4 linked regions of the Homo sapiens genome follow. The gene in region 3 interacts genetically with the main gene of each other region. Each region holds a gene or a part of one and is shown on either strand. Other genes may lie near its edges.

Region 1 (7,961 bases), on a different chromosome or scaffold from region 3:
ATCTTTATGTTCTCCCAGGGTGTAGATCTCCGTCACTATTCAAAGCAAGTTGAGCTGGAGCTACAGCAGATTGAACAGAAATCCATTCGGGATTGTATCCTCCAGCAGAGGGAAGGGGTGGTGCTATTGACATGGGGATTTTGTGGCGTGTGGTACAGATGTCCCAGCTGGGGTCAACATCTCTGAGGTTTCTATCACTTCAAAGAGAAATTGGAGAGGTACTACAAATCTGAGGATCTCCCATCTTCACCATGAGGCCCCTTGACTTTTTGTGGATCAGATATTCAAGAGAGTGAGAATATAGCATCTCTACACAACCAGATCACAGCCTGTGATGCTGTCCTGGAGGTTAGTAATCATGACCTGTGACCCCTAATAGCTACTCTGAACCAGATCATGGACTCTGGTGCCATTTTTAGGTCATCAGCCTCAAGATGGGGACAGGTTAGGGTCATTTTCAAGATGACTTCAGGAGCCTTTTTTGTTATTACTGCCATATTTAATGTTATTTCCTGATAATCTGGGGTGTCTCATCATCTGCCACCCTCAAGGACTGATAAATACTGAAGACTTCACAAAGAGTCTTTGGTGGCCCACTTATCCCCTACAAACCCTATAGCACTCCGGCAACATCTACCCTCCCTACAGCGAATGGAGCAGATGTTGGGAGCTTTTCAGAGTGACCTCAGCTCCATCAGCTCTGAGATCCGGACACTGCAGGAACAGTCAGGAGCCATGAACATTCGACTTCGAAATCGCCAGGCAGTTCGGGGGAAACTTGGGGAGCTTGTTGATGGTCTGGTGGTGCCTTCTGCTCTGGTCACGTGAGTTACCAGTTTGAAGGGTTATAATGTCCATAGCAGGTGGATGGGCTGGGGTGACCCACCCTATTTACCATATGGGTCTCCTGGCTCCAGGTTAAGTGCTTTTTAGAAATTAGTAGCCAGGTTAACCACCATTTCTTTAGGTATGCATTAGGCATCAAAGATTAAGATTAAGAATGATGTAAGATCAGGTGTATAGTGGGGAGGTCCAGGAATAGAAAACTTTGTACATGTGTCCTGACTATATGGTACAATGCAAGGTGGTAGAGATGACAGGGGCTGGAGGTAAGGAGTGTGGTCTGGGTCTGGTTTAGGGATGTCTGGGTCTCCCTTGTAACTCATCCCACCCCTCCCTGCTAACCAGGGCAATTCTGGAGGCTCCAGTGACAGAGCCCAGGTTCTTGGAGCAGCTACAGGAGCTGGATGCCAAGGCAGCCGCAGTCAGAGAGCAGGAAGCTAGAGGCACAGCAGCCTGCGCAGATGTCAGAGGCGTGCTCGATCGGCTCCGGGTCAAGGTGGGAAGTAGGGATGGATACCCTGGAGGCTACTGGAAGCAGCCTTCCCAAGATCTTCACTATGGATTTCCTTGGCAGAGCTCACTGTAGCCTGTCTCCAGGGACTTCACCCTGCCTTTTCTGGGCAGCCCCATTCTTGTCTCTCTGGGTTTCCCTGAAAATCTTGAGAAATACCAAAGAGATATTCACCACCCTTCTGCCTATGTTTACCATTTGTTGCTTCCCCCAGTTCCTCTCATACAGCAAAAGGGTTGCAGCTTCATGCCCTGTGTTTGGTTCCCCACATCTAGGCAGTGACGAAGATCCGAGAGTTTATCCTCCAGAAGATTTATTCCTTCAGGAAACCCATGACCAACTATCAGATCCCCCAGACGGCCCTGCTGAAGTACAGGTCACAACCCCAAGGAAGTGCATGGGATGGCCTTTGAGTTTTTGAGCGGCCTAGTGTGGGCATCTGGTTTCTTGGGAGACAGGTAGACTGACATGTTCCTGACCCCCTAGGTTCTTCTATCAGTTTCTGCTGGGCAATGAACGAGCAACAGCAAAGGAGATCAGGGATGAATATGTGGAGACGCTGAGCAAGATTTACCTGTCTTACTACCGCTCTTACCTGGGGCGGCTCATGAAGGTGCAGGTAAGGTCAGGAGGGAGAGGTATTCCTGGGCACATGGACTGGGAGGAGGGGACATCCCTGGGCAAGGAATATTTTATTGTGTTGTGGGAAGAGACGGTTATCAGTTCTCTTTTCTCTTTCCTTAGTATGAGGAAGTCGCTGAGAAAGATGATCTAATGGGTGTGGAAGATACAGCAAAGAAAGATATCCTAGTACTGGGGAACCCTCATGCCAGGCCTTGAGAGTGGGAGGACTTTCGACTCCAGCCACCAATGCACTGCTCCTTACCTTTTCCTATGGGACTGAAACCTTTTAGAATGTGATGAAAGCTATAGCCTCCCTCCCCAGAAAGATGCACACATTATTTTGACACATAGTTTTGCATATGATTGCAAGGGAGGGAGAGACACCCTGAAGCCCATTCACAGATGTCAGCACGTGGGGCCCTAGTACTGGGAAAGAGGGCTGGCTAGGCCACGTCTGCCTGTCTGGGGTCCCCACAGATAGTGAGTCTTTGGGCCCAGTTATGGTCTCATTGTTTTCCCTGACTCTGACCCATCTTACGATTCTTCTCAAAGCCATCGCTCCGCAGCAGGAACACCATTTTCACCCTAGGAACCCGCGGCTCTGTCATCTCCCCCACTGAACTTGAGGCCCCCATCCTGGTGCCTCACACAGCGCAGCGCGGAGAGCAGAGGGTATGAGGAGGAACAAGCTTCAGTCACGAAAGAGGCTCTGAGCACGGTGGGGAGGGAAGGCCAGACCTCAGGGCAGAGCTTCCCAACCTGCAGGCCCTGTCTTAATCCCCTTAGACTTGGGAGTGGCCTTCTCCAATCACTCCAGCCTGCTGTGATGTGAAAAGAGCTGGGAACCATTGACTTAAGGGCATGCAGAGGGGAGAGACTGGATGAGGGGAATGACAGTCAGAGGCAGGTGTTGAGGTGGATGCAGGAGTAGCAACAGCAGGTGGGTGTAGGCCCTTTTTGTACCCCTATGTTCCCCCACCTTTTCAGTGCCCATTCAGCTTGCTCTTAGACAGCCCGGACCTAGATAGATGCGAAGGGTCTGCCTAGCTCTTATTACTCAGGTTTACTGATTTTCCAGCCATATCCATGGGAAGTCAGTGTTGGGGTCCATCCCTTCTGTTTTTCTTCTTTACTCCTCCTCTCCCAGTATCCATTTGAGGCCCTCTTCCGCAGCCAGCACTACGCCCTCCTAGACAATTCCTGCCGCGAATACCTTTTCATCTGTGAATTTTTTGTTGTGTCTGGCCCAGCTGCACACGACCTGTTCCATGCTGTCATGGGCCGTACACTCAGCATGACCCTGGTAAGACTCCTGTTTCCTGTACCATTCAACACCTTTGTCCCCAGTCTTCATCAGCAGCATAGTGGGGTCATGACTCTGGTAGAACTGAAATCAGGATCGCCTCATTCTAAAATGTCTAAGCCTTGGCTGGGCGTGGTAGTGCACACCCATAATCCCAGCACTTTGGGAGTCCAAGGCAGTAGGATTGCCTGAGCTCAGGAGTTTGAGACCAGCCTGGGCAACAACCTCATCTCTACAAAAAATGAAAAATTAGCCGGGTGTGTGTTGATGTGTGCCTGTGGTCACAGCTACTAAAGATGCTGAGGTGGAAGGATTGCTTGAGCCCAGGAGGTCAAGGCTGCAGTGAGCCATGCACTCCAGAGTGAGACCTGTCTCAAAAAAAAAAAAAAAAAAAAATAGCCAGGTGCAGTGGCTTACGCCTGTAATCCCAGCACTTTGGGAGGCTGAGGCGGGAGGATCACAAGGTCAGGAGTTTGAGACCAGCCTGACCAACATGATGAAACCCTGTCTCTACTAACAGTACAAAAATTAGCCAGGTGTGCGCGGCCTGTAATCCCAGCTACTCGGGAGGCTGAGGCAGGAGGATTGCTTGAACCTGGGAGGAGGAGATTGCAGTGAGCCAAGATTGCGCCATTGCACTCCAGCCTGGGTGACAGAGCGAGACTCCATCTCAAAAAAAAAACTTGTTACTTAGACTTGTCACAGTGTTACTCCCCCATGAAATCCTCAGTGCGTAGGGTCCCTGAGACTACCCCTACTGCTGACCCACAATCAGGCAATAGCACGTGAAAACTGAGGGTCCCCCAAATCTTGGTGCTCAAACCCCTGACCCAAGCTCAGCCCTGAACTCTGCTGTGATAGGCTTGTGATCATAGATCCTGGTGTGGCCAGGTGCAGTGGCTTATGCCTGCAATCCCAGTACTTTGGGAGACCAAGGCAGGAAGGTTGCTTGAGGCCAGGAGTTCGAGACCAGCCTGGGCAATGCGGCAAGACCTTGTCTCTACAAAAAATTTAAAAATAAACTTAACCAGGCATGGTGGTACACACCCATGGTCCCAGTTGCTTGGCAGGCTGAGGTGGGAACATCACTTGAGCCCAGATGTTTGAGGCTGCAGTGAACTATGATTGTACCATTACAATCCAGCCTAGGTGACAAAACAACCTGTCTCTAAAGCCGAAAACACCGGGTGCAGTGGCTCACACCTGTAATCCCAGCACTTTAGGAGGCTGAGGTGGGCGGATCGCCTGAGGTCAGGAGTTCGAGACCAGCTTGACCAACATGATGAAACCCCATCTCTACTAAAATACAAAAATTAGTCGGGCGTGGTGGCAGGCGCCTATAATTCCAGCTACTCAGGAGGCTGAGGCAGGAGAATTGCTTGAACCTGGGAGGCAGGCGGAGGTTGCAGTGAGCCGAGATTGTGCCACTGCATTCCAGCTTGGGTGGCAAGAGTGAAACTCTATCTCAAAAAACAAAAAAAAAGCCAAAAACATAGATCCTGGACAGGAAAGCAGGGGGCAGTTCCATTTTACGTCTCTCCCTTCTGTCCTGTCCAGTGCATCATCCCCAAAGAAACAAATGCGTTTGTTCATAGTCACTGAGGACAACAAACTGACATTCTCTTTTAATCCTCTGTTTGTTCCCCAATCACACAGAAACACCTGGATTCTTATCTAGCTGACTGCTACGATGCCATTGCTGTTTTTCTCTGTATCCACATTGTTCTCCGGTTCCGTAACATTGCAGCAAAGAGGGATGTTCCTGCCCTGGACAGGTCACTGAATTCTGGTCCTTGATGCCCAACAGGCCACGAACTCTCTTGGTCTTGCATGACTCTGCCCTGACCTTAGACTCCTACTGACCTGGTATCATCAACCTTTATTCCCATTCATTTGCTCCGGAGGCAGTAGTGCTGCTTTTTGACTCACCTTTCTCCAACCACTGCCCCCCAACCCCCACAACTAGCTATTGACCATTAAACTGAATGATGCCCCACTCCCTCCCATCCCCCTCCAACATTCCTTGCTGGCTGACCTCTGATTCTGATTAAGCCCACAGGTACTGGGAACAGGTGCTTGCCTTGCTATGGCCACGGTTTGAACTGATCCTGGAGATGAATGTTCAGAGCGTCCGAAGCACTGACCCCCAGCGCCTAGGGGGGTTGGATACTCGGCCCCACTATGTGAGGGAGGGCAAGGGTAACAAAGGGTTCTTGAAAGGCAGGGCTCTAAGCATCATTGTGGGGGTTGGCCAAGGTCACAGTTGTGTCATGGGCCACGCTATGAGCAGGTGTTCTGGGAGGGTGGTGAAACTCATGGTGAGTGGTGCACTGTGGGTAGGAGGGACTGAAGGTAGAGTCACATCACATGGAGGTGGGTTGGCTAAGGAAGTTGGGAGGTTGTGTTGGTTGGGCCAGGAGGTGGGTGTGATTTTCCTTCCCACTCTCTCCTAGATCACACGCCGCTATGCAGAGTTCTCCTCCGCTCTTGTCAGTATCAACCAGACAATTCCTAATGAACGGACCATGCAATTGCTGGGACAGCTGCAGGTGAGGGTCGGACAGGAGACACTTCCCAGCAGCAGGGCTGCTTCCAGTGGGTGGAGTCTGAGGAGGAGCCAGATGGGGCCCAGATGACCTTGCTTTCTGGTGTCACCTCTTCCTCTCTGCCTTTTCAGGTGGAGGTGGAGAATTTTGTCCTCCGAGTGGCAGCTGAGTTCTCCTCAAGGAAGGAGCAGCTTGTGTTTCTGATCAACAACTATGACATGATGCTGGGTGTGCTGATGGTAATAGGTGCTCCTTCTCCTTGCCTTCCTACCCAGAAAATTCGGTTTCCCCCACTGCTGTTAGCTCTGTGAGGGCAGAGATGATGCCTGTCTTGTTCAGTGTTTTACTCTTGGAGTCTGGCACAGTGTCCAGCTTAGTACAATAAGTGTGGAATGAAGGGGACATCCTGAAGTGAAGGACTGCTTTCCCCAAACTAGACATTTCCCTTTGTCTTCCCTTAGGAGCGGGCTGCAGATGACAGCAAAGAGGTTGAGAGCTTCCAGCAGCTGCTCAATGCTCGGACACAGGTAGGGGTGTGGGGAAAAGGGAAGAGACAGCCTTCTGTGCTGTTTTCAGCTCTCTCTCTCTCTCTCTCTGTGTGTGTGTGTGTGTGTGTGTGTGTGTGTAGGGAGTGGCATAATGGATCTCAGGTATGCGGAATTACTGTAACTCTTGATTCACAACATACTGTCATTATTGGTCTATTTTATTTTATTTTGTCTTTGGTTTTTTTTTTTTTTTTTTTTTGAGGCAAAGTGTCACTCTGTCACCCAGGCTGGAGTGCAGTGGCATGAACATGGCTCACTGCAGCCTCAACAGCCTGGGCTTAAGTGATCCTTCTACCTTAGCCCCCTGGGTAGCTGGGACCACAGGTGCGAGCCACCATGCCTAGCTAATTTTTTATTTTTAGAATGAATTTTATTTTTTTCTTTATCTATCCTCTCAAGCATTTATCCTTTGTGTTATAAACAATCCGATTACACTAAGTTATTTTAAAATGTACAATTAAGTTATAATTGACTATAGTCACCCTGTTGTGCTGTCAAATAGTAGGTCTTATTTATTCTTCCTATTTTTGTTTGTACCCATTAATCATCCCCACCTTCTCCCCAGCCTTCCACTAGCCTTCCCAGCCTCTGGTAGCCATCCTTCTACTCTCTTCGTACATGAGTACATGAGTTCAATTGTTTTGATTTTTAGATTCCACGAATCAGTGAGAACACATGACGTTTGTCTTTCTGTGCCTGGCTTATTTCACTTAATATAATAATTTCCAATTCTATGCATGTTGTTGCAAATGACTGAGTCTCATTCTTTTTTATGGCTGAGTAGTACTCCATTGTGTATATATCCCACATTTTCTTTACCCATTCATCTGTTGATGGACACTTAGGTTGCTTCCAAATCTTAGCTATTGTGAACAATACTGCAACAAACATGGGAGTGCAAATATCTCTTCAATGTACTGATTTCCTTTCTTTTGGGTATATACCCAGCAGTGGGATTGCTGAATCATATGGTAGCTCTACTTTTAGTTTTTTGAGCAACCTTCAAACTGTTCTCCAAAGTGTTTGTACTAATCTACATTCCCACCAACAGTGTATAAGGGTTCCCTTTTCTCCACATCCTTGCCAGCATTGCTATTGCCTGTCTTTTGGATAAAAGCCATTCTGACTGGAGTGAGATGAGATCTCATTGTAGTTTTGATTTGTATTTCTCTGATAATAGTGATGGTGAGCCCCTTTTCATATATGTCTGTTTGCCATTTGTATTCTTTTGAAAAATATCTATTCAAATCTTTTGCCCATTTTTTAATAGGATTATTAGACTGTCATGTAGAGTTGTTTGAGCCCCTTATATATTCTGGTTATTAATCCCTTGGCAGATGGGATGTGCAAATATTCTTTGTCTCTTCACTTTATTGTTTCTTTAGCTGTGCAGAAGCTTTTTTTTTTTTTTTTTTTTTTTTTGAGATGGAGTTTTGTTCTTGTTGTCCAGGCTGGAGTGCGATGGTGCGATCTCAGCTCACCGCAACCTCCGCCTCCCAGGTTCAAGCAATTTTCCTGCCTCAGCCTCCTGAGTAGCTGTGATTACAGGCATGTGCCACCATGCCTGGCTAATTTTGTATTTTTAG
Region 2 (8,693 bases), on a different chromosome or scaffold from region 3:
CCAGGCTAGAGTGCAGTGGCGCAGATAGCTCATTGTAATCTGGAACTCCCAGGCTCAAGTGATCCCCGTCTCAGCCTCCCAAGTAGCTAGGACTACAGGTGCACACCATCATACCCAGCTAATTAAAACATTTTTTTTTAAAGAAATGGGGTCTTGCTATATTGCTCAGGCTGGTCTCGAAGTCTTAGGCTCAAGTAATCCTCCTGTCTCAGCCTCCCACAGTGCTGGGATTAAGGCATGAGGCACTGCGTCTGGTTTAAGGGAATGTTGTAGCTTGCTTGATCTCCTACCCAGACCATTAAAACTTTCTCCAGGTCAGCAACAAGGCTGTTTTGTTTTATCATTCCTATGTTCTCCAAAGTGGTACTTTTACTTTCCTTTAAGAACTTTTTTTCCTTTGCATTCATAACTTGGCTAACTGGTACAAGAGGCCTAGCTTTTGGCCTATCTTTGCTTTCAATATGCCTTCCTCACTTAGTTTAATCATTTCTAGCTTTTTACTTAAAGTGAGAGACGGGGATTCTTTCTTTCACTTGAACACTTAGAGGCTACTGTTGGGTTACTAACAGGCCTAATTTCAATATTGTTGCATCTCAGGGGATAGGGAGGCCCAAAGAAAGGGAGAGAGACAGAGGAACTGCCAGTTGATGGAACAGTCAGAACACACATAACATTTATCGCTTAAGTTCTCCATCTTACATGGATGTGGTACATGACACCCCAAAACAATTACAATAGTTACAACAAAGACCACTGACCACAAATCATCATAACAGATATACTAATAATGAAAAAGTTTCAAATATTGAAAGAATTACCAAAATGTGATAAGAGCCATGAAGTGAGCATATGCTATTAGAAAAAATGGTGCCAATAGACTCACTCAACACAGGGTTACCACAAACCTTATATTAAAAAAAAAAATTGCACCAAATCATACTTCCATCAAGAGAGTATAAATGTATCCCCATTTCTTATGTGTACTCTTACCAACATTATTTCTAGTAATTTAAAAAGTTTATAAGTTTCATAGATGAAAACATGCACCTAGTAACTTTTTTTTTTTTTTTTGAGACAGGATTTCATTCCTTTCACTCAGGTGGGAGTGCAATAGCATGATCTTGGCTCACTATTACCTCTGCCTCCCAGGCTCAAGCAATTCTCCTGCCTTAGCCGCCTAAGGGGCTGGGACCACAGGTGTATGCCACAGTGCCGACTGATTTTTTGTAGAGACAGGGTTTCACCATGTTGCCCAGGCTGGTCTCAAACTCCCGGGCTCAAGTGATCCGCCCACCTCTGCCTCCGAAAGTGCTGGGATTACAGGCGTGATTACCCTGCCCGGCCCCCTACTAACTTTTATCATAAGCTTAATCTTAGAACAGAGTCCAAAAATTTTGACAGGAGTGGTGGTGGAAACTAGTAGAAAAAGGAGGAGAAGACCTAAGGCATGAGAACTGTCAGTATATTTTACAAAATAAAGTTAAAATATGATATTTGAAAGTTGAAGCCAGGCACGGCGGTTCACACCTGTTATCCCAGCACTTTGGGAGGCCGAGGCTGGTGGATCATTTGAGGCTAGGAGTTGGAGACTAGCCTGGCACATGATGAAACCCCATCTCTACTAAAAATACAAAAACTAGACAGGCGTGGTGGTGCATGCCTGTAGTCCCAGCTACTCAGGAGGCTGAGGCACAAGAATCACTTGAACCCGGGAGGCGGAGGTTGCAGTGAGCCAAGATTGCACCACTGCACTCCAGCCTGGGTGACAAAGCAATGCTCTGTCTCAAAAAAAAAAAAAAAAAGAAAGAAAGAAAAAGAAATGATGTTGAAAAATCCAGCCAATAACATTTTTGTCACAATAGGGGAACTCTCAAGTATAGGGTTTTGGAGAGTCAGATATTTCCTTTTCTCCCCGCCAGGGAGAAAGACCTAGAGGTTTCCCCCACTCCCTCTCACTGTCCAGAGCAATTACCACAATTTAGTTCAGCCTAAAGAGCATATGCTGTTGGAAAAACAGCAACAATAGACTTACTTGATGCAGGGATGCCATAAGCCTTAATTTTTTTTTTTTTTTTTGAGACAAAGTCTCACTCTGTTACCCAGCCTGGAGTGCAGTGGAGCGATCTCGGCTCACCGCAACCTCTGCCTCCCAGGTTCAAGCAATTCTCCTGCCTTATCCTCCAGAGTAGCTGGGATGACAGGTGCATATCACCATGCCTGGCTAATTTTTGTATTTTTTTTTTTTTAGCAGAAAGACAGGGTTTCACCATATTGGCCAGGCTGGTCTCAAACTCCCGACCTCATGATCCGCCTGCCTTGGCTTCCCAAAGTTTTGGGATTACAGGCATGAGCCACCGCGCCCAGCCAAACCTTAAATTTTTAAAAAAATCACACAGGAGGCTGGGTGCGGTGGCTCACGCCTGTAATCCCAGCACTTTGGGAGGCCGAGGTGAGCGGATCACCTGAGGTCGGGAGTTCCAGATCAGCCTGACCAACATGGAGAAACCTCGTCTCTACTAAAAATACAAAATTAGCCAGGCATGTTGGTGCATGCCTGTAATCCCAACTACTCCAGAGGCTGAGGCAGGAGAATTGCTTGAACCCAGGAGGTGGAGGCTGCAGTGAGCTGAGATGGCACCATTGCACGCCAGCCTGGGCAACAAGAGCGAAACTCCACCTCAAAAAAAAAAAAAAAGAAAGAAATCACACTGGATCTGTAGAAAGAACATCAGTTCTTTTCAGGCCATGTGAATTCAGGCACATCTACCACACCTGTCCTGTTTCCTCACTTGAGAAAGTGAGAATAACAACATCACACCAATGTCACTCACCTTGAATGTTTACTATGAATTAAATCAAGACAAGCATTTGGAATTATTTTGTGAATCTTAAGTGCTACACAGGAGTGTGGCAGAGGAATAAGCTTCTAAAGTCAGCAAGTAAGGTTAAAATTGAGTGCAATAAAAATTGCTTAGAAGTTCCTTAAATTGCCCATGAGCACAGTATGACAAACTTGAGACACATGAGAACAAAGACTCTCTGAGAGACAGCTGGGACAAACATTCAGTAACACTGCCAGCAAAATTGCTGCACTAGAACATTTTCATTTCCTCTTTCTGCCAAGTGCATAACTGAATCTAAGATGAAAGTATGATGCAACTTTGTTATTCTACAATTTGAAATTGGCAAGTTAAGAAACCTCTCTGGGCCTCTTTGTCTAATGGTGTAGCTCAGCTGGATCAGGGTTTCCTCCACGGTTTGTCTGACAAATACTGCCAGCTTACTATGCTTACTATGTTCCAGGCTGCTGTGTTGGACTGGGGGAGGGTAGACGCCAAGGAGACAATCTGATCGCAACAGGCTGGTGAGTGGTGAGGCAGTTTCAACCTCCATTTGAGGAATACAGGATTCTATCATCACCTTCCAGGGAATGCAGTGAATGTTTAGAAAAATTACAGAAAGTTACATATTTGGTTATGAATACCAGCTACAATGCTATATCTAATATGAATTAAGTTTCTTTGTTTCCTTTTTTCTGTTTATGTTGCTACTTTTTTTTTTTTTTTTGAGACAGTCTCACTCTGTTGCCCAGGCTGGAGTGCAGTGGAGGGATCTTGGTTTGCTGCAACTTCCGCCTCCCAGGTTCAAGCGATTCTCCTGCCTTAGCCTCCTGAGGAACTGGGATTACAGGCACCTGCCACCACGCCCAGCTAATTTTTGTATTTTCAGTAAGACGGGGGTTTCACGATGTTGGCCAGGCTGGTCTCGAACTGCTTACCTAAAGTGATCTGCCCGCCTCGGCCTCCCAAAATGCTGGGATTACAGGCGTGAGCCCCAGCACCCCGCCTACGTTGCTACTTTTTAATGTGGGGTCATTTTTTAAACCTGGCTTTTTAATTGAAAAAGTAATACAAACATATGGAAAAATTCAAACTGTACTAAAAAAGGTAGACAATGAGAAGCAAATCTTTCTTCTATTTCAGACTCCTCCTTCCCCCATTCCACACCATATCCCCTCAACCCTCCTTCTATTCAGACGTTACCACTGGGTCAATCCGTTGAAAGTTACAGCTAAGGTGATACCTGGGGTCCAAAAGCTAAATATGGACCTACGCTATCACCAGTCCCTTCCAGTTCTAAAACTAAGTCCAAGCCTTTTGCAGCACGAAAGAGATAGCCTCCTCTCATCTAAAGTTATGGCTGGTAAGGCTGAGACGAATGGAAATGGATTTCAAAGACATAGATTTAGAACTCCTGAAAGGCAGGAGACAGAACTCAATACTTTCATGGTGAGTGGTTTATTTACTGATTAAATAAACGCTCCCTTAGGGATGTAAGCTCCACACCGGCAGGAGCTTCATCACCAGCTCTCACTGCAGACCCCGGCATTAAAGGAGCTCACACGGTAAAAGCCCCTACCGCCCACCACAGCCACAGCGGCCGGCAGCCCAAAGTGGGAAACCGCGCCGGCCGTCACGTGACTCCAGCTCCCCCCGGCAACCGGCCCGCCCCCACCGAGACCCCGCCAATCCGGAAGGGAGGTCCAATTTGGCCAGGCCAGGGCGTGTTCCACCGGCCCAGTAGCCTTGCTGCTGCGTTATCCCTAGACTCGCCCCACTTGCCTCGGAGTCTCAGGCCGTTGCCTAGGTCCTCCCGGTAAAACCCTGGAGACTGCTAGGGAGAGGAGCAAGGGAGGGGCCAGCGCGCAGAAGTGCGGACGCAACCCGGCGGCCGCGGGCGAGGCTTATGCAGAGCTTCAAGAAACAGCTAGGGAGACCGCAGGAGTCTCCAGAGCGCGCGCGCGGGCCCTCCCCGGCCCGACCCACGCGGCGCGGCGTGGTGACGCCCGCGCGGCCTGAGGAAGGGGCGGGGTCGGGGCGGGCCTCCGCGCTCCTCCCGCCCTCTCTGTGTCCCTACTCTCCCTCCCCTTCCCTCCCCCACACTCGGCCCCGTCAGCTTGGGGGTGCCTTCGTCGCGCAGCCTTGCGTCGGCCCGGCCCGGCCAGGCCAGCGGGCAGATGCCCCGAGCTGCCGCCGCCGCCGCCGCCGACTCGGCCGGTGGCGGTGTGGGAGGTGGGCGACCAGCCCGGGGCCGCTGAGTGTGACGGACGCAACTGGGGGCGCCGGGGGCTCCGCACGGACCATGTATTTTCTGAGCGGCTGGCCCAAGAGGCTGCTGTGCCCTCTGGGGAGCCCGGCCGAGGCGCCTTTCCACGTTCAGTCCGACCCGCAGAGGGCTTTCTTCGCCGTGCTGGCCGCGGCCCGCCTCAGCATCTGGTACAGCCGAGTAAGTAGAGCCGCCCGCCGCCTTTCGCCGCTGCCTCCCCGGCCTCCCGGCGCCGTCCCACCCCCAACTTCCACCCAGAGCCTAGGACTCCTGCCCCTTCGTGCCAGACCCACCTGCCTTCGCAGTCCGCGTCCTCGTTCCACCGAATTGGCCGCAGGTACCCGCCGGCTGCAGGCACGTCCTCCAGCCGGCGGTCCGGGGTGGATGAAGTCGCTGCTGCCGAAAATCCCTGAGCCTCCCCGCGTTGGACCGACGGCCGCGGCGTGCAGACTCCGCACGCTCCCCGGCCGAGCCCAGACTTGTTCTTCTCTCCCTTCCCCCATTCCCCGAGGGACAAATTTGTTTAAACTTTCCACAATTAGAAATCCGGCCGCTGTGGTGCCCCAACCCTCCCTTACTTTAAAGGTCGCCGTTTTGGAGTTAGGGAAAGCCTCTTGGGCTTTACCCAGCGCCAGACTTTACAGGCCTGTAATAACTTATTTCTACAAACTACAGCCTGAATTCTTTATTCTTCACTAAAGGTCTGGTTATTTAACTCCCCTCTTTAACCCCAACATCCCTTCCCCACTTTCGAGTTGGTCTTTTTCTTTGCTGCTGCTCTTGGACTCTTCGGAATAGGGGGTTAAAGGAGCGGAAGTAGAACTCAAATCTGTCCGCGGAACTCCCAGTTATAACACCTGGAAATAATAAGGCTTGGGAGGAGCATGGAACTGAATTCTGTTTTTGCTTTAAGTCCTGGTTATCTTTTTCTTTCTTGTATTGAATTACTGAGTAGATATGAGAAAGAAATAAGTGGTGGATGGGATACTCCCTACTCTCTGCAAACACTGCTATAACTTTGTCTATGAGAACGACAGAGTTCAGAGTATAAAAATGCTTTTTTTCCTCCCCAAAGAAGGCAGTACCAATCGATGTCAGAGTGAAGTTTTTCTCCTTTCCAAGTTAATTTGACCATGTGGGGATAGGTTGTGATCTTGTCCTTATTAGGTGTTCGTGAAATACTGGTTTTAGTTTGTTAAAATCCCCAAATCTTTGTGTGTTGCTGTTCCATTACCTGTAATGCCCTTGACAGTCCTCACCCACTTCCCTGGTAATACTGGTGATGGGATTTAGTGACGGGTAATTCTGGTGTCTCCTTTGACTGTCATAGTTGGGCTGTAAATCAGACTATTTGCCATCAAGTTTTGGCTGATCTAATTTTCAAATGCAAATCAGAACAAAACAAACTTATAAAATCGTAATACCAACAATATGACTATTTTGTCTAGTGCCTGATTGTATTTTGAATATATATGTATGTATGTGTGTGTGTATATATATAAACATATGTGTAAATATATATAAAGTATCATCTGGTTCCTAAATGAGATATTCGTTTACAATGTATATGCCAGTTGAATAATTTTTAATTTGTTTAGGTGTATATAACTCAACTTTAAAGCACATGCAGAAAAAAATAGAACTTGAATTTAAATTGTCTTTTGAATTTAATACATAATTCCTTTTGAATGTAACAAATTTAGACTTTCGTCTAAAATTTAACTTTTCTTACCTTTAAAAAGGCAGACCTAACTTAATTTTAAATAAAAGTAAACAATATGACCTATGAATTGACCAGAAGCCTGTAAACCACTTTATTCCCCCATAAGAGAAGCATAAACATATGCTTTAATTTAGGGACATTGTGAATATTCTTAAGCATGTCTATTGTTTGGTTTTGGAGTTACATACGACATCTAGAAATCCAAGGCAGTTCTGGAATTTAAACTATTCATACTCTTCTTTCAAATTCCCACCTCACATGCAACTTCCTTTTTCCACAGAAGTCCAGGGACCCCTACTATTAAGTTCTGTTGTGCAAAAGTTAGGCTGTAGGGAACCCATGGGTTTAGAGGTCTGGAGTGAAATGAAATGCAGGAATACCTTAGAGGAGGCTGTATAGTACTGTAGTATGAGTGGTTAACCTTGGTCTCTGGGCACCAGCTTTGTTGTCACTGAAAAAAATCAGATATTCACGAGGTCAAGAGATCGAGACCATCCTGGCCAACATGGTGAAATCCCGTCTCTACTAAAAATACAAAAAAATAGCTGGGCGTGGTGGTGCACGCCTATAGCCCCAGCTACTCGGGAGGCTGAGGCAGGAGAATCGCTTGAACCCAAGAGGCAGAGGTTGCAGTGAGCCAAGATCCCACCACTGCACTCCAGCCTGGCGACAGAGCAAGACTCTGTCTCAAAAAAAAAAAAAAAAAAAAATCAAATATTGAACCAAGTGATTATAAGGTGTATGATTACATGCCTAGGTGAGTGGGATACATATGCTAGACTCCAGCTTCCAATCTTCTCTTCCTGGGATATGCCCTTTCTTACTCTGTATGAAAGTTTTCATTTTGATTTTCTAATTTGTAAACTTCCTGAAAGTATGTAAGTTAATTAGGTTAACAAACTTCATTTAAAAGTGAAAATGCCTTTAGGTAAATTAAAGGGCTATCAGTTATACTTCCATAATTTAGAGTGAATTGGTTTAAAAAGTTCTCATGGAGCTGCTAAAAGCTTTGATTTTTGAGAGGCTGTAGATACAAGTAGTTTTATAATAATATGTGAAGATCTACAGGATTTTACAGAGTTGAAGTCTTACAGCTGCTTGAGGGCATTTGAAGGCAGGGAGACATGCTCGTAGAGATGATAAAACAAGATTTGCTTACCTGAAATTTTGTTAGGGCTCACTTAGTAAATCAGGCTCTCTTAGGAGTGATATATTTTAAAAAGAGACAACTAGCCTTGTGGAAGGGACAGTCGTTTAGTAGTCTAAGCTGGTTGTTTCAATGTTCAAAAGAATTGTGGAAATTGTATGTGTACAGTGATAATTCATAAGACTGAATCTCTATTAAAATCTCTAACTGTACATTATATGGGTCTTCTAATGAACTTTTATGTACTACTTATACCTACTGTCCTCTATTCTAAGTAGGTATTCGGAATTCCACTGTTTAGACTCATATCTCTTCAGAATTATTTCCTACCCCAAATTTGAGAAATACAGTATAGTGTTGTTTATGAACAAAAGAGCCTCTAGATAGTTACTTAGCTTTTTTATATTGGAGCCCCAATATTATATTTTGGAGCCCCCCAAATGGTGTTAAAAAAAGGCTCAGTATGTGTAGGCTAGATTGGGGTGGTAGAGGTAGAACTTGACTGGGGGCAGTTGGTACATTTCTGCTAAGGTTATTGTAAAAGGACTAGTTTCAGCTTTGAGGATGAAACTGTTGCATAAGGTAGGTTATGATTTATGATTGACGTAGGTGTAGTGTGAGATGAATTACATTTTGTACTGTACTGAGGGCCCAGAATTATTCCTTTAATATACTAACTGTGACTATGAAAGTCTATATATGTGAACATCAGAATGG
Region 3 (8,884 bases):
ATAATTGGAGTCATTATTCCTGTCAGGGTAGTGGTGAAATTCAAATGTATATAAAAGAATTTGAAAAACCGTGTGAGCATTCTTCAGGTGGTATGCATCATTTTCATGAAAGGCATTCTATTAGTACCAGGATTTAGGAATATAATCCTTGCGCTTAAGAAGTTTAGATATAGGCCAGGCGCGGTGGCTCACCTCAGTAATCCCAGCACTTTGGGAGGCCGAGGCGGGCGGATCCCGAGGTCAGGAGATCGAGACCATCCTCGGTAACACGGTGAAACCCCGTCTCTACTAAAAATGCAAAAAAATTAGCCGGGCGTGGTGGTGGGCACCTGTAGTCCCAGCTACTCGAGAGGCTGAGGCAGGAGAATGGCGTGATCCCGGGAGGTGGAGCTTGCAGTGAACCAAGATCTGGCCACTGCACTCCAGCCTGGACGACAGAGCAAGACTCCGTCTCAAAAAAAAAATTATTTATTGTTTTGAGACGGAGTTTCAATCTTGTTGCCCAGGCTGGAGTGCAATGGCGCAAATCTCCTCTCACCGCCACCTCCGCCTCCTGGGTTCAAGTGATTCTCCTGCCTCAGATTCCCGAGAAGTTGGGATTACAGGCATGTGCCACCACTCCCGGCTAATTTTGTATTTTTGGTAGAGACGGGGTTTCTCCATGTTGGTCAGGCTGGTCTCAAACTCCCGAAGTGATCCGCCCGCCTCAGCTTCCCAAAGTGTTGGGATTACAGGCGTGAGCCACCGCGCCCGGCAGAAATAGATTTTATACATGTCAAATACCAGTAGATATAGCAAATTCCAGATGTGTGGCATGGATGAGAGCAACAAGATTTCAGGGGGATGGTGGGTTGTGGTTGGCTATCTGGGTTTTGGAAGACTTTATAGAAGAGAGACCTGAAAGGGATTTATCAGCAATTAGATTTGGAGGAACAGAGGGAGTGACTAGGAATTTTCAAGGGGGAGAAGAAGGAGGAATGGCTCATAAATGACAAGGACAGTAATTAATAAGTAAATACGGTGTCAAATCATCCTTTCTTTTGAAGACTAATGACCTCAAAGGGATCAAACCCAGAAACAGTTTTTATATTTTTTCTGGGATCAAATACATGGGTATCTGGCCTACTATATTTGTATTCTAGACTGTTTAGTAAAATAATACAGGAATTTGAGAAAACCTTTGCAAAAGTGTTAGTGAAAATTACTTAGGGTGAGAGGAAGTGAGGGATATTTTATTAGGGGAGGTCACAAGGGCAGTGAGCAATCAGATTTTTAGTAATCTGACTTAAGCAGTTTCTTTTTGTTTTAATGAAGCTTGTTATCTTTATAAAAGTAATTAGAGAAAATTTGGAAAATAAAGGAAAGAAAGAAAAGTTCTTTAGTGTTTTATCACGCAAATACAAGCTCATTCGTTTTTAACATCTTGTTCCAAACTCCAAAGTCTTGCTTTCTCTTCAATTAAAACTTTAATGGGTGGATGCTTTTCCTGCTTCCAGTATGTTATCTTAATAACTAACAATGGTATATTAGCTAATGTTTACAAATGTACTCCAGATGTTCCTTAAGTTACTTTGGTTTATCATTACCAATTTATATTGTTTCTTTTAGAAATTTATAATCTTTGTTAATGGGTTCTGCTAAATTTGGTAGTGAAAATGGGATCTTGAGAAAAAAGATTCTGAAGCAACAGAATTTTTAGATTTATATTGGTTTACATAAGAGTTGGTAGCTGTATTACTTTTTTTGTTTGTTTTGTTTTTTTTTTGAGACGGAATCTTGCTCTGTCGCCCGGGCCTTGGCCTCCCAAAGTGTTGGGATTACAGGCGTGAGCCACTGTGCCTGGCTGTTTGTGTTTTTTTTTGTTTTTGTTTTCTTTTCTTTTTCTTTTTTTCGAGATGGAGTCTCACTCTGTCACCCAGGCTGGAGTGCAGTGGCGCGATCTTGGCTCACTGCAATCTCTGCCTCCTGGGTTCAAGCGATTTTCCTGCCTTGGTCTCCTGAGTAGCTGGGATTACAGGCATTTGCCACCATAACCAGCTAATTTTTGTATAGAGTACCCAGCCATCTCTAATGTTGATCAGGCTGAAGCAGGTGGATCACCTAAGGTCAGGAGTTCAAGACCAGCCTGGCCAATATGGCAAAACCCTATCTCTACTAATACAGAAAATTATCTGGGTGTGTTGGCTGGCGCCTGTAATCCCAGCTACTCGGGAGGCTGAGGCAGGACAATCTCTTGAACCTCGGAGGTGGAGGTTGCAGTGAGCCGAGATCACACCATTGCACTCCAGCCTGGGCAACAGAGCAAGACTTGTCTCAAAAAAAAAAAAAAAAAAAAAAAAAAGGCAATTGAAAGTGTAATCTGAACAGTTAAAAAAGTAGATAGAAAGGGTTAAAGCTTTTTTTTGAGGATCTGAAGAAAAATGTGGATTTTTTTTGAGCTACGTTTTGAAGCAGGCAGTGATTATTTCAGCACATTAAGAAATGCTTAACATGGCCAGGCGCAGTGGCTCACGCCTGTAATCTCAGCACTTTGGGAGGCCGAGGTGGGCGGATCATTTGAGGTCATGACCAGCCTGGCCAACATGATGAGACACTGCCTCTACTAAAAATACAAAAATTAGCTGGGTGTGGTGGTGCACGCCTGTAATTCCAGCTACTCAGGAACCTGAGGCAGGAGAGTCACTTGAACCTGGGAGGCGGAGGCTGCAGTGAGTCCAGATCATGCCACTGCACTCCAGCCTGAGGGACAGAGTGAGACTCCTCAAAAAAAAAAAAAAAAAAAGAAAGAAATACTTAACATTATTCTCGTGATTATTCTCATAACATTTTTCATAATCCACTGGCTTCCAGTGGATTTTTTTAGTGTCAAGAAAATAATTTTGATTGGTTCATCTTTAAGGAATGTGTTAAGAATAAAGCATGTCTACCTGTCTTCAGTATACCAGCTAACTATAGTAGGAAGAAATATAGTAGTCTACTTAGATCAACTATAATTCTTTAATGCAGAAAAAGTTTAAAGTATTTACCTTATTTTTAGCCCCCATCCCCTTAAGTATATCATGGCTCCAGAATCTCTGAAAATGTTATCAGTCTTTCAGACTTTGCTCTTCTTTCATGTTATACTCAAGAAACATTTGACCTTTTTTTTTTTTTTTGCTTGCATTGTGTTTCAAATAATTTTTAACAAAACTTAAGTGTTTGAAAGTGAAAGCAGGTTGTCTTTGTGACTTTTGGTGGTGGTTTGAAAAACTCAGAAAAGTTTAAAGAAGAAAGATAACTAGTATTCTCATTGTCCAGAATATGATTTTTTAAATGTCTATAGAATATCACCATCTGTAATTCTTCCGGTAATTTAAGTATTCAGTAGTTGTATAAAACCTTTAAAATATATATATTGAGAATTTTGTGTGAATGAGATGATGAGATAATCTTGTAGGATCATTTAAAGATAAGAACTGAGGCCTGGCACAGTGGCTCATGCCTATAATCACAGCACTTTGGGAGGCCCAGGCGGTAGATCACCTGAGGTCAGGAGTTTGAGACCAGCCTGGCCAACATGGCAAAACCCTGTCTCTACTAAGCATAGAAAAATTAATTGGGTGTGGTCGTGCCTGCGTGTAGTCCCAGCTGCTTGGGAAGCTGAGGCGGGAGAATCTCTTGAACCCTGGAGGTGGGCATTGCAGTGAGCTGAGATTGCGCCACTGCACTCCAGCCTGGGCGACAGAGCAAGACTCTGTCTCAAAATAAAGTAAAATAAAATGAAGATAACAACTGAAATTTCACATTAAAAATTTTTTTGTAGCGACTGTGCCTCCTATGTTGTGCAGGCTGGTCTCAAACTCCTGGCCTCAAGCGATCCTTCCAAAGCACTGGGTGGGCCACCATGTCCAGCCTGAAATTTTGCATTAAAAAATTTCCCGCTTTTGGCTGGGCGAGGTGTCTCACGCCTGTAATAGCAGTTTGGGAGGCCGAGGCAGGCAGATCACTTGAGGTCAGTTCTAGACCGGCCTGGCCAATGTGGTGAAACCCTGCCTCTACTAAAAACACCAAATTAGCTAGGCGTGGTGGTGTGCGCTTGTAGTCCCAAGCTACTGAGGAGGCTGAGACAAGAGAATCGCTTGAATCTGGGAAAAAGAGGTTGCCGTGAGCCAAGATTGGCCACTGCACTCCAGCCTGGGTGACAGAGTGAGATTCTGTCTCAAAAAAATAAAAAATAAAAATTTCCCCCTTTAATCAAATTAAGTTAAAATGAGGGATGTTAGACAGTTTTTAACCATCAAATATTTTAGTTTAGTTTTTTTTTTTAACGTTGTCTTAAAGATGGAAGTGCTTCAAAATCAAATCTTCCTTGCCAGTTCTCTACTTGGCTTCTTTTTTTTTCTTTTTGAGACAGAGTCTCACTTTGTCACTGGAGTGCGTTGGCGTGATCTCGGCTCACTGCAACCTCCGCCTTCCAGGTTTAAGTGATTCTTCCACCTCAGCCTCTCAAGTAGCTGGGAGTACAGGTGTGTGCCACCACACCCGGCTAATTTTTGTAGTTTTAGTAGAGACAGGGTTTCACTATGTTGGCCAGGCTGGCCTCAAACTCCTGACCTCGTGATCCACCCACCTCAGCCAAATTGCTGGGATTACTTGTGTGAGCCACGCGCCTGGCTTCTACTTGGCTTTTAAAGGGAATTTTGCTTTCTGAGTAATTTTATTTCTCAGGTATCTTGGTCTTTTTAATTCTGGAAGCAATCTTAATAATTTATGTATGTGCCCTGTAATCCCAGCACTTTGGGAGGCCGAGGTGGGCGAATCACGAGGTCAGGAGATCGAGACCATCCTGGCTAACACGGTGAAACCCCATCTACTAAAAATACAAAAAATTAGCTGGGCGTGGTGGCAGGCGCCTGTAGTCCCAGCTACTTGGGAGGCTGAGGCAGGAGAATCATTTGAACCCGGGAGGCAGAGCTTGCAGTGAGCCGAGATCGCGCCACTGCACTCCAGCCTGGGCGACAGAGCGAGACTCTGTCTCAAAAAAAAAAAAAAAAAAATTTACGTATGTGCTAACATCCTGCTATATTCACCTTCCATAGCAATCTGTTGGCTGTGTGTTGTGTATGTGTGTGTTTTCTCTTCTGGGTAGTTTTGACTATACCTATGTGATGGTTTCACTATTTGTAGTTTGAATAGTTCAGTTTTATTTTGGATAGTAAAGAAGAGCTTGCTTTTTTTTTTTTTTTTTTTTTGTCTGAGACGGAGTCTTGTTCTGTTGCCCAGGCTGGAGTGCAGTGGTGTGATCTGGGCTCACTGCAAGCTCTGCCTCCTGGGCTCACACCATTCTCCTGCCTCAGCCTCCCGATTAGCTGGGACTACAGGTGCCCGCCGCCAGGCCCAGCTAAATTTTTGCATTTTTTAGTAGAGATGGGGTTTCACTGTGTTAGCCAGGATGATCTCCTGACCTTGTGATCCACCTGCCTCTGCCTCTCAAAGTGCTGAGATTACAGGCGTGAGCCACCACGTCTGGCCAGAATAGCTTTCTTTTGTGGCAAGCTATATACTTTCCTAATATATGAACATGTTTAGGGTAAAATAAGATGCTTCTTAACGTTTTGAGATTTAAAAAAAATTTGCTAATCAACTTTGAGTGTCTGTTTTTTGAGATATAGGGTCTTACTCTGTCACGCAGGCTACAGTGCAGTGATGCAATCATAACTTACTATAGCCTCCAACTCCTAGCCGGGTTTCAGTGATCCTCCCACCTCAGCCTCCTGAGTAGCTGAGAATACAAGCGCGTGCCACCACACCTGGCTAATTTTTTTTTTTTTTTTGTATTTTTTGTAGGGATGGGATTTCAATATGTTGCCCCAGGCTAGTCTCAAATTCCTGGTCTCGAGATCCACCTGCCTCAGCTTCCCAAAGTGCTGGGATTATAGGCATGAGCCCCACGCTTGGCTGAGTGTCTTAAGATGAAGAAAAACTGAAAATGGGTGTAGTGTGCCAGTGCATGAGGTATTTTAAATGTGTAGCTTACCAGCTTTTTTTTTTTTTTTTTTTTTTTTTTTTTTGAGATAGAGTCTTGCTCTGTCACCCAGGCTGGAGTGCAGTGGCACAATCTTGGCTTACTGCAACGTCTGTCTCCCGGGTTCCAGCATTTCTTCTGCCTCAGCCTCCTGAGTAACTGGGACTACAGGCGTCCACCACCACGGCCAGCTAATTTTTATATTAGTAGAGATGGGGTTTCACCATGTTGGCCAGGCTGGTCTCCAACTCCTGACCTCAGGTGATCCGCCTGCCTTGGTCTCCCAAAGTGCTAGGATTACAGGCGTGAGCCACTACGTTTGGCTGCTTATCAGCTTTTTACCACTTTGTCGCCACTACATTTTGGAATTTTCCTTTGAGAATTAGGCAAAATGCCCAGACTCCCCCCCGGCCCCCGCTTTAGAGGGAGAGGGGAGCAATTAGACTATTCCTTTGTTTCCCTATAGAAGGTGGGGCTGAGATTACTGCTTTGATATCTGGAATGTAATTTAGGGAAGAAAATTTAGGTCTTGGCCTTTCTTTGGAACCACCCTGGGAGTGTTGCAGATTATTAATAGGGTAATGGTGGAATGATATTCAGGGGAAAAATGGTCCTGAGGAGCCAGAGAACTAAGTGTTAGTTTGTTGGCTGACTGAAACATGTGAGAGATAGGGTACAGAAGAAGTAGGAAATAGTTTTCCTTGGTACTTCTGTGACAGGTTGGCTCAATTGGCTGGAACACCCTACACTGCTTTATTAAATCCAAGGTTGTGATAGGTTCCAGTTAAGTTTACTGTGTTCTATGCTTGTAGATTTCCTAATTAGGACAAGTAGTGTTAAATATGCATGCCTTTATTCACAAGAGGGACCATTCTTTTGGAAACATCACTTTTTAATAATACTAGGTGCTATTTAGCACTTACTCGGTGCCAGCCACGTGGCTATGGTTTTTTTTTTTTTTTTTTTCGAGACATGATCTAGCTCTGTCTCCCAGGCTGGAGTGGTGGTAGCACAGTCATGGCTCACTGCAGTCTCAACCTCCTGTACTCTAGTGATCCTCCTGTCTCAGCCTCCTGAGTAACTGGCACCATGCCTGGCTAATTTTTTTTTAAGAGATGAGATGTCGCTATGTTGCCTATGCTGGTCTCGAACACCTGGGCTCAAGTGATCCTCCTGCCTGAGCCTCTCAAAGTGTTGGGATTACAGGTGTGACCCACCTCACTTGGCCATCTATGGTCTTTACATAGGGCATTTTGTGCAGTCTGCGTCTCAAACTAGTGATCTTCAACAGTGAAACTCAGTGAATTATGTAATTCATGTTTTCCAAGAACAATGATGGATTTAATTTCTCTGAATGTATTTCCTTTGTATAATAATAGTACTTAAGTGGAATTACTCTTTGTCCTTTCTACTCTCCTTATAGATATTTTCTGGTATCTTGATTTGGGACTGTTACATTTAACCCATTTATGGTCGTGTAGCCATACTCACGTTACATTTGATGCATCTGCTCCCTTTGTGTCTATATACTCATATAACATTTTGCATAAAGTTATAGGCAGTTCACACCAAGGCTGTTCATGAACCTCAGATTAAGAATACTTGATTTAGGAGATTGAAAACAGAAAAGAGAATGTTAACTATCATTATCAATATTAAAATGTGAAAATCTGAGAGTGACAAAGCTTAGCTTTAAATCTGGTATCCCAAACTCATTTGAGTTTTTTTTTTTTTTTTTTTTTTTTTGAGACAAGGTGTCGCTTTGTCCCCCAGGCTGGAGTGTAGTGGTGTGATCTTGGCTCACTGCAACCTCCACCTCCCAGGTTCAAGTGATTCTCCTGCCTCAGCCTCTGAAGTTGCTGGGATTACAGGCTGCGCCACCACGCCCAGCTAATTTTTTGTATTTATAGTAAAGACGGAGTTTCACCTTATTGGCCAGGCTGGTCTCAAACTCCTGATCTTGTGATCCTCCCGCCTCGGCCTCCCAAAGTGCTGGGATTACAGGTGTGAGCCACTGTTCCCGGCCTAATTTGAGTTTTAAAATGTGGAGTTTAAGATGTTAGTCTTAAAGTGGGTTAGATGAAATTTATAAAAATAGTCAAATAGCTAAATTTATAAAAGGCCATTTGAAACAATTTTGTGAAATATATAATGTGGATAATTATGTAGTGCTTTATGTGTAGATTGGTGGTTAGCATCTGCCTGATGAAGAGCAGTTGGATTTCTTACTTACTAAAGCTAGTGAAATCTGAACTCCAAATTAGGCATCTTCACCAGGCTTTTTTGAGCCGAGCTAACTTACTCTCTTTTTTATTTTTATTTTTTAATTAATTAATTTTTTTTTTTTTTTTTTTTTTTTTGTAGAGACAGGATCTCCCCATGTTACCCAGGCTTGTCTCTGGCTCCTTGGCTCAAGCAGTCCTCCTACCTTAGCCTCCCAAAGTGCTAGGATTACAGCTGTGAGCCACTGCGCCAGGCTGAGCTTATTCTCTACTAACACAAGTGTTCTAATTTAATTTAAGCAGTGAATCACACTTTTCTTTGTATTTGGTCAGGTTCTGGGTGCTAGTTTATATATGATTTGATTCATTCTGATAGGGTTTTTTTGTTTTTTTTTGTTTTTGTTTTTTTGTTTTTTTTTGAGACAGAGTCTAGCTCTGTCGCCCAGGCTGGAGTGTGGTGGCTCGATTTCGGGTCATTGCAACTTCTGCCTCCCACCCAGGCTGGAGTGCAGTGGCTCGATTTCGGGTCATTGCAACCTCTGCCTCCCAGGTTCAAGCGATTCTCCTGCCTCAGCCTCCTGAGTAGCTGGGATTACAAGCACCCACCACCATGCCCGGCTAATTTTGTGTATTTTTAGTAGAGACTGGGTTTCACCAT
Region 4 (5,591 bases), on a different chromosome or scaffold from region 3:
CTATCTGTCCACTTGCCTACATTTCCATTCTATTCAAGCCATTTTTGCTCTTCAAGTACCTTGATCACTTTGGAATCATAGCATTGCAAGCTATTTCAAAAAAAGTTGCGTGGTTGGATTGTGCTAGCTACTTTTAAATTTATAAAAAATGCCCCATATATTTTCTTGCTTGTCTGGGAAATATAGTTGCTATCTAACTAGAAAAATAAGAGGGCATTATTAAAGTAACTCTTTAAGCATCGTACTAAATGTTTGACTTCCATTAACCATATTTCTTGTAGTAGCTGTAGCTATTATGATACTGTGTAAAACAGAACAGGTTCTATATATGCAAATGACATTTTCATTTAATGTACCAAATTGTGTATCTAACTTTTATAATATAGGTTAAACAGATCCTTTCTAAGATGGCATTATTTAATCTTTACTTAAAACTATGAAAAATATGTGTAAGTTATTGTTTATAAACAGAAGAGACTATAATTAAAATATAGAGCAGATTCCAAGTGACCATCATTTTACTTTTTAGATTTAAAACAGAATGAAACAGAAGATTTAGTCATAAGAAGATGCTTGAAAAACAATCCAAGTATCCAATGCAGTGGCTATAAAATATTATTTCATCATTTAATCTTAATCATTTTGAAACAAAGACAGACTTCAATTTTACACTGCTTGCACTTTATTTTGTACAGACATTTCATTAATTATTACTCAATTTTGAGGTGCAAACCTTCTGAATATAGCTTTCATTTTGGACCAAACAATTTGTTATGGCAATAAATAATGATGCATTGAAAAACCAATTTTTGTATTTGATTTAATGCACTCTTACATTTAAGAAATTATATATACATTCTTGAATTTCAACTTACCAAAATAGAATAGCTTTTATTTAACAGCCTAAGCTTTTGTTTTCCTGACAAATACTGAAACTTTTTGTTACATTAATGCTGCAAAGTTGTTTATCACCTCAACTTTCTCACTGCTTTGCTCATAACTAAGTGTGATTACATGGAGAGAGAAAGTTTTGTAACAGTAACACATGATTTAGAGTTTAAAATCATATCAGAAGATGGGAATTATTTAAATATACCTTATAAAAATAAGTGGCTTAATCAATGAGAAAAAAACCCAGGGGTTTTTGGCTTATAATTAGAAAATAAGTATTATTCTTAGTTAATAGTTAATTAAAAAAAATCAACAACCTAAAAAGTAAAACCAATTCTGATGTGTTCAGTAGCTGAAAGATATGTATGTTTGTAGGTATAATATACAAATACAGACACAAACCATTACAGTAATTTTGAAAACAACTAGAAAGCTTATACTGTGTTGACAAATATCAGGTTATAAGAGGACTACCCCCTTTGTTTTAAGCAAACTTTTTCTGCTGACCGAATAGCTAGGAAAAAACTGGAGTTAACTGAAATATTTCTAACCAAAATATTACAAAGTTCTAAGAAACAACTCTATCTTCTAGATTGAGGTCAGCCAACTATACCCTGCAGGCCAAATCTGCCCAGCTGCCTCTTTTTTTTTGAGACAGAGTCTCACTCTGTCGCTCAGGCTAGAGTGCAGTAGCATGATCTCGGCTTAACTGCAACCTCTGCCTCCCCGGTTCAAGTGATTCTCCTGCCTCAGCTTCCCGAGTCCAACTGCTTCTTTTTGTGTACACCACTGTACTTTTTTTGCCTACTGGCTGCTCTTGAAGTACGATGGCAGAGTTCAGTATTTGTGACAGAAACCTTACGGCCTGCAAAGCCTAAAATATTTAGTATCTTGTACCTTACATAAAAAGTGTGCTGACTCGTGTTCTAGATAACTTGCTAGGGACAAATGGTCTCAGATACACAGCTTTTGGAGAACAAAGTCCAATGGTCATCTAAAATGAAATGAAATTAAATAATAGGTGTAGAAAATATACACATGTTCATTTCAAATATAAATTACAAGATAAAATCAGATCTCTTCAAAACAAATATTTAATATTTTAACCATTTTACAGGAAAGAAAATTTAAGTAACATATTTACTTCGTTGTTGACGTCATCATTTTACAAAGGTAACAAAAAGAGCAGTTCTGTGAAACTAAATGAAAAGCCTAACATTGGAAGTTTCCTTCAGCTTTCCACTTTAATGGCAGAAGATACCACACAGACTTGTGCGATGTCATCATATTCATATGTTCTCTTTAAGAATGTGTCTGTTAGTCTTAAGCCAGAGATGCTCTATTGAGAGAGAGAGAGATGAGTCTAAGTTTTCATTCATTCAGAGGAAATACAGACATCACAAATGACTTGTAAGTTAACAGCACCCAAATATTGGAATTTTTGAAAAGACAGCATACTTGCAGTCCCTGTACTGAAGAAAGCAGAGTAAGGGCAAGACAGAGCGAAGAACTTGGATGCAGCTTTCCCAGCTGTCTTCCTGAAATTCCACACCAGTGGATGGAATTGGTATTGCACATTTCCAAAACCAGATCCATAGTCCTTTCACTGCTGGAGGAATCAGAATAATAGGAATAAATCTTGTTCATTTCACAAAGAGGTACTGCAATATTTCTACTAGTGACAGTAAACTTGTTTTCTCCATATCCAGGAGAATAAAAACCAGAAAGAGAAAAGCTATTATAACATTTTTTATGTCACTTAAGATAGAACCAGGAAGATGAAAGGAAGTCACACCTTCTAGCACTTAAAATAGCCTCAGACTAATCTGCCTGTCTGGATGTTGGCCTTCTGGTTCTATTACTCAACACTGGCCTCCTGGTGCTGATCTGGTGCTACCATTTTTCTGGGAGACTTCCACACATTTGTGTCTAATCTTGTTGCCATATATTCTCACTATTTCTGTTAGGTACTCTACAGGAAAAGAAGAAAACAACTGATTCTGGTCTAGTCCTTTTGATACCTAATCTATGTTACTTTACCATAACTTGGGAAACAACTGGCAGGATTCATAAGACATAAATACTATTCAGGTTTGCTAACTGGATTATTTACCAAGAAAAGACTACTTCTGCTTATAATAGATATCACCAGTTCAGCTTAAATAAGTTAAAAAAACTTTTAATGAAAGTATGCACATTGTTCTTCTTTAAATAACCAAAAGGCTCATAATGAAAAATAGTCTCCTACCACCATTCACGGCTACTTATGGCTTTTAGCTGTTTATTCTTATACTTGGCTCCAAATTTTAAATTGCTTATTTAAATTTTATTTTTTTTAGACATATTGACTTTATAATATTAACTTGTATATGCCTGAATCTCCCTAACAAGCATTTGAGATGGCTACTATGTGCCAGAGACCAAGGTGGATGCACTACATGAATATTGTTAATTTCACAAAAATCCAGTAAGACTTATATATGTTGTGTGCATGTGTCTGTGCATGTCCCTGGTGTGTAGGGGCAGGGAATGACATTTATATAGAGAGGAAACTAAAGATCTAAGAGACATGTGCTTTTTAGAAAACTTGTATGAATCACCAAAAGTTAAAGTGAACACCAAGAGAAGTTAACTTTTGAAAAAAATAACACTTGTGAGCTGGTCAATAAACTGATTTGCTGAAAAAACTTAAAAAAAAAACCAAAAATTCCCCAACACCCTGTAACACCCTATAAGCACAGGGTCTTTGCCCTGTATTGTTGTTTACTGAGCTCACGATGTGGCAGACACTGAGTAAGGCCATGTCCCTTCTCCTGAATAATTCCAGTCCAGTGAGAAAGAGACTAATACTTACAGTAATATATGAGTGTCACTAAATACACAATATATGAGTGTCACTAAAAAACTAAGTTAAAATTTTCTATGATGGAGAAGGCATGAATACCTGTGCTTTGGAAAGTCTAGGTAGCTTCATAGAGGAAGTGGGTATTTCTGTAATTTTGAAGGATAAATATTTCCTATCTTTCTAATACCAAAAAGAATAAATATGGAATTAAAAGGATTATACATTCACACTAAGAGGACTAGGATTCATCACTGCAATATTATAAAAATACCCCAAATAATAATACAAACCAAGTGGTAATACAAGTAGGAGCAGAGGGCATAGGACTGGAACTTAATTCTATTTTTTTCTGGTTTCAAAGCCCTGTGCTCTTTGCTTCCTGACAGTTCAGATTATGCTCTCTCTTTACTGTCAAAACCCAGTTTTCGAATCAATGATCTCCCCTTACATTAAATCCATAAGCAATGTTTGGTTTCTTAATACTCAAGATACAGCTCAAGTACAAGCATGCCTCAAAAAATCTTGCTACTTCAATTCATAATATATTAATACATAAGAACCTATTAGTTCATGTTTTGGTGAAGGAAGTATAAACAATGAATACCTACCTCATAGGGTGTGACAAATGAATGAAATAAAATACAGAAGATGCATAATACAATAGGCCCTTAAAAATATGTAATTATACTGCTACCAGATGAAGAATTTTACAGTACTCAATATCAACATCAGAGAAGGCTGTATGTCAAGAGGAAAACTTAAAAGGAGATAGTAACAAAAAGATTTTAAAATTATCTTCTAGGCAGGTGAGGTAGAAAGGACATCCATCTACAAACAGTGGCATTACCTGCAGTTTGTTATTTTACAGGTAATATGAAAAGGTTCTTCAAGGTTTACGGTATCTGGTATTGCCTCCAAAGACAACCTAACATCTCCATAACCTGGAGCCTAAGAAAACAAGCAACACAGTTAATGTATATCTATCACAAAACCTTTCCATTTTAATGAAGGCACCACAGCAGCACATTTACTCAACAGCTGTTGGGTTTCCAAGCTGATGTTCTAAGAAAATACTTCTGATTCACTTTACTTGTCTCTCATTTTAAATTCTTTTGCAGCTACTGCCTGTGGAATAGCCTGGCAGACCTGGACTGTTTTTGTTATATAATTATTCCATGTTCAGTAGAGTTAAGATGAATCTCACAGGTAAGTAGTCAGTAAAGAAATTTCAGGGAGTTGAAGGGACACTTTCCAGATGCTGTAGCTTCTATGTGTGTAACTCTAAATAGGTAAAGTTATTTTCTAAAGAAAGAGGGGGATGATGTTGAAAGGAGCCAGGAAGAAAATCATGACTTTTTACAAGACGCACAGATGAGGATGGATTATAACAACACGAAGGCTTGGAACAGGCCATGGCAGAAAAATAACTAACGGCTATATTTAAGTGGGCCCAGGAATCATCATCATCATTTTTTAAAAATTATTGCCTCAAACAGTGGAAAGAAAAGTAAAATTTGGAATATGTCAAAACAGGTAATATTCAGCATAAAGGGAGGAGAATCCTGTCGTATATTCTTACAAGCATAAGAAAAAGAAGCCTGGTAGCTATCCCTACTCTCAGAGAAGAAATTAGGTAAAATATGCAACCAATGCTTATAAGATAACTTTAGTAGAACTCACCTTCTGAGGAGATGCCTCAGATTTTTAACATCTTAAAAATGGTAGGAACTGAGTAGGTGAATGAAGTAAGTCCAAGAGTTTCAGGACATTGCAAAATAGAAAACCTTAATGTGTTTGGAAATCAGAAGAAGAGTGAGCATGTGTTACCAAAGGAGAGACACTTAATAACAGTTAT

What was found.
Region 1: changes in RAB1A (region 3) and VPS52 are lethal when combined (synthetic lethality), as found in Homo sapiens cells (one study listed by BioGRID).
Region 2: changes in RAB1A (region 3) and RIC1 are lethal when combined (synthetic lethality), as found in Homo sapiens cells (one study listed by BioGRID).
Region 4: changes in RAB1A (region 3) and TRAPPC13 are lethal when combined (synthetic lethality), as found in Homo sapiens cells (2 studies listed by BioGRID, with this or other methods).

What each region holds. Positions count from the first base shown.
Region 1 is NC_000006.12:33,261,877-33,269,837, reverse strand, and holds part of VPS52 (vacuolar protein sorting-associated protein 52 homolog), read left to right. Parts: intron 1-18; coding exon 19-94; intron 95-280; coding exon 281-348; intron 349-648; coding exon 649-824; intron 825-1,188; coding exon 1,189-1,339; intron 1,340-1,629; coding exon 1,630-1,730; intron 1,731-1,840; coding exon 1,841-1,973; intron 1,974-2,098; coding exon 2,099-2,156; intron 2,157-2,516; coding exon 2,517-2,650; intron 2,651-2,764; coding exon of another isoform or gene 2,765-2,830; exon of another isoform or gene 2,831-3,106; intron 3,107-3,125; coding exon 3,126-3,281; intron 3,282-4,937; coding exon 4,938-5,056; intron 5,057-5,340; coding exon 5,341-5,464; intron 5,465-5,734; coding exon 5,735-5,830; intron 5,831-5,958; coding exon 5,959-6,066; intron 6,067-6,288; coding exon 6,289-6,354; intron 6,355-7,961. UniProt on the Homo sapiens protein: Acts as a component of the GARP complex that is involved in retrograde transport from early and late endosomes to the trans-Golgi network (TGN).
Region 2 is NC_000009.12:5,624,168-5,632,860, forward strand, and holds the start of RIC1 (guanine nucleotide exchange factor subunit RIC1), read left to right. Parts: upstream 1-4,939; 5' UTR 4,940-5,142; coding exon 5,143-5,286; intron 5,287-5,399; exon of another isoform or gene 5,400-5,560; intron 5,561-8,693. UniProt on the Homo sapiens protein: The RIC1-RGP1 complex acts as a guanine nucleotide exchange factor (GEF), which activates RAB6A by exchanging bound GDP for free GTP, and may thereby be required for efficient fusion of endosome-derived vesicles with the Golgi compartment.
Region 3 is NC_000002.12:65,119,322-65,128,205, reverse strand, and holds part of RAB1A (ras-related protein Rab-1A), read left to right. Parts: intron 1-8,884. UniProt on the Homo sapiens protein: The small GTPases Rab are key regulators of intracellular membrane trafficking, from the formation of transport vesicles to their fusion with membranes.
Region 4 is NC_000005.10:65,661,143-65,666,733, reverse strand, and holds the end of TRAPPC13 (trafficking protein particle complex subunit 13), read right to left. Parts: intron 4,685-5,591; coding exon 4,584-4,684; intron 2,501-4,583; coding exon of another isoform or gene 2,498-2,500; coding exon 2,350-2,497; intron 2,231-2,349; coding exon 2,123-2,230; 3' UTR 501-2,122; downstream 1-500.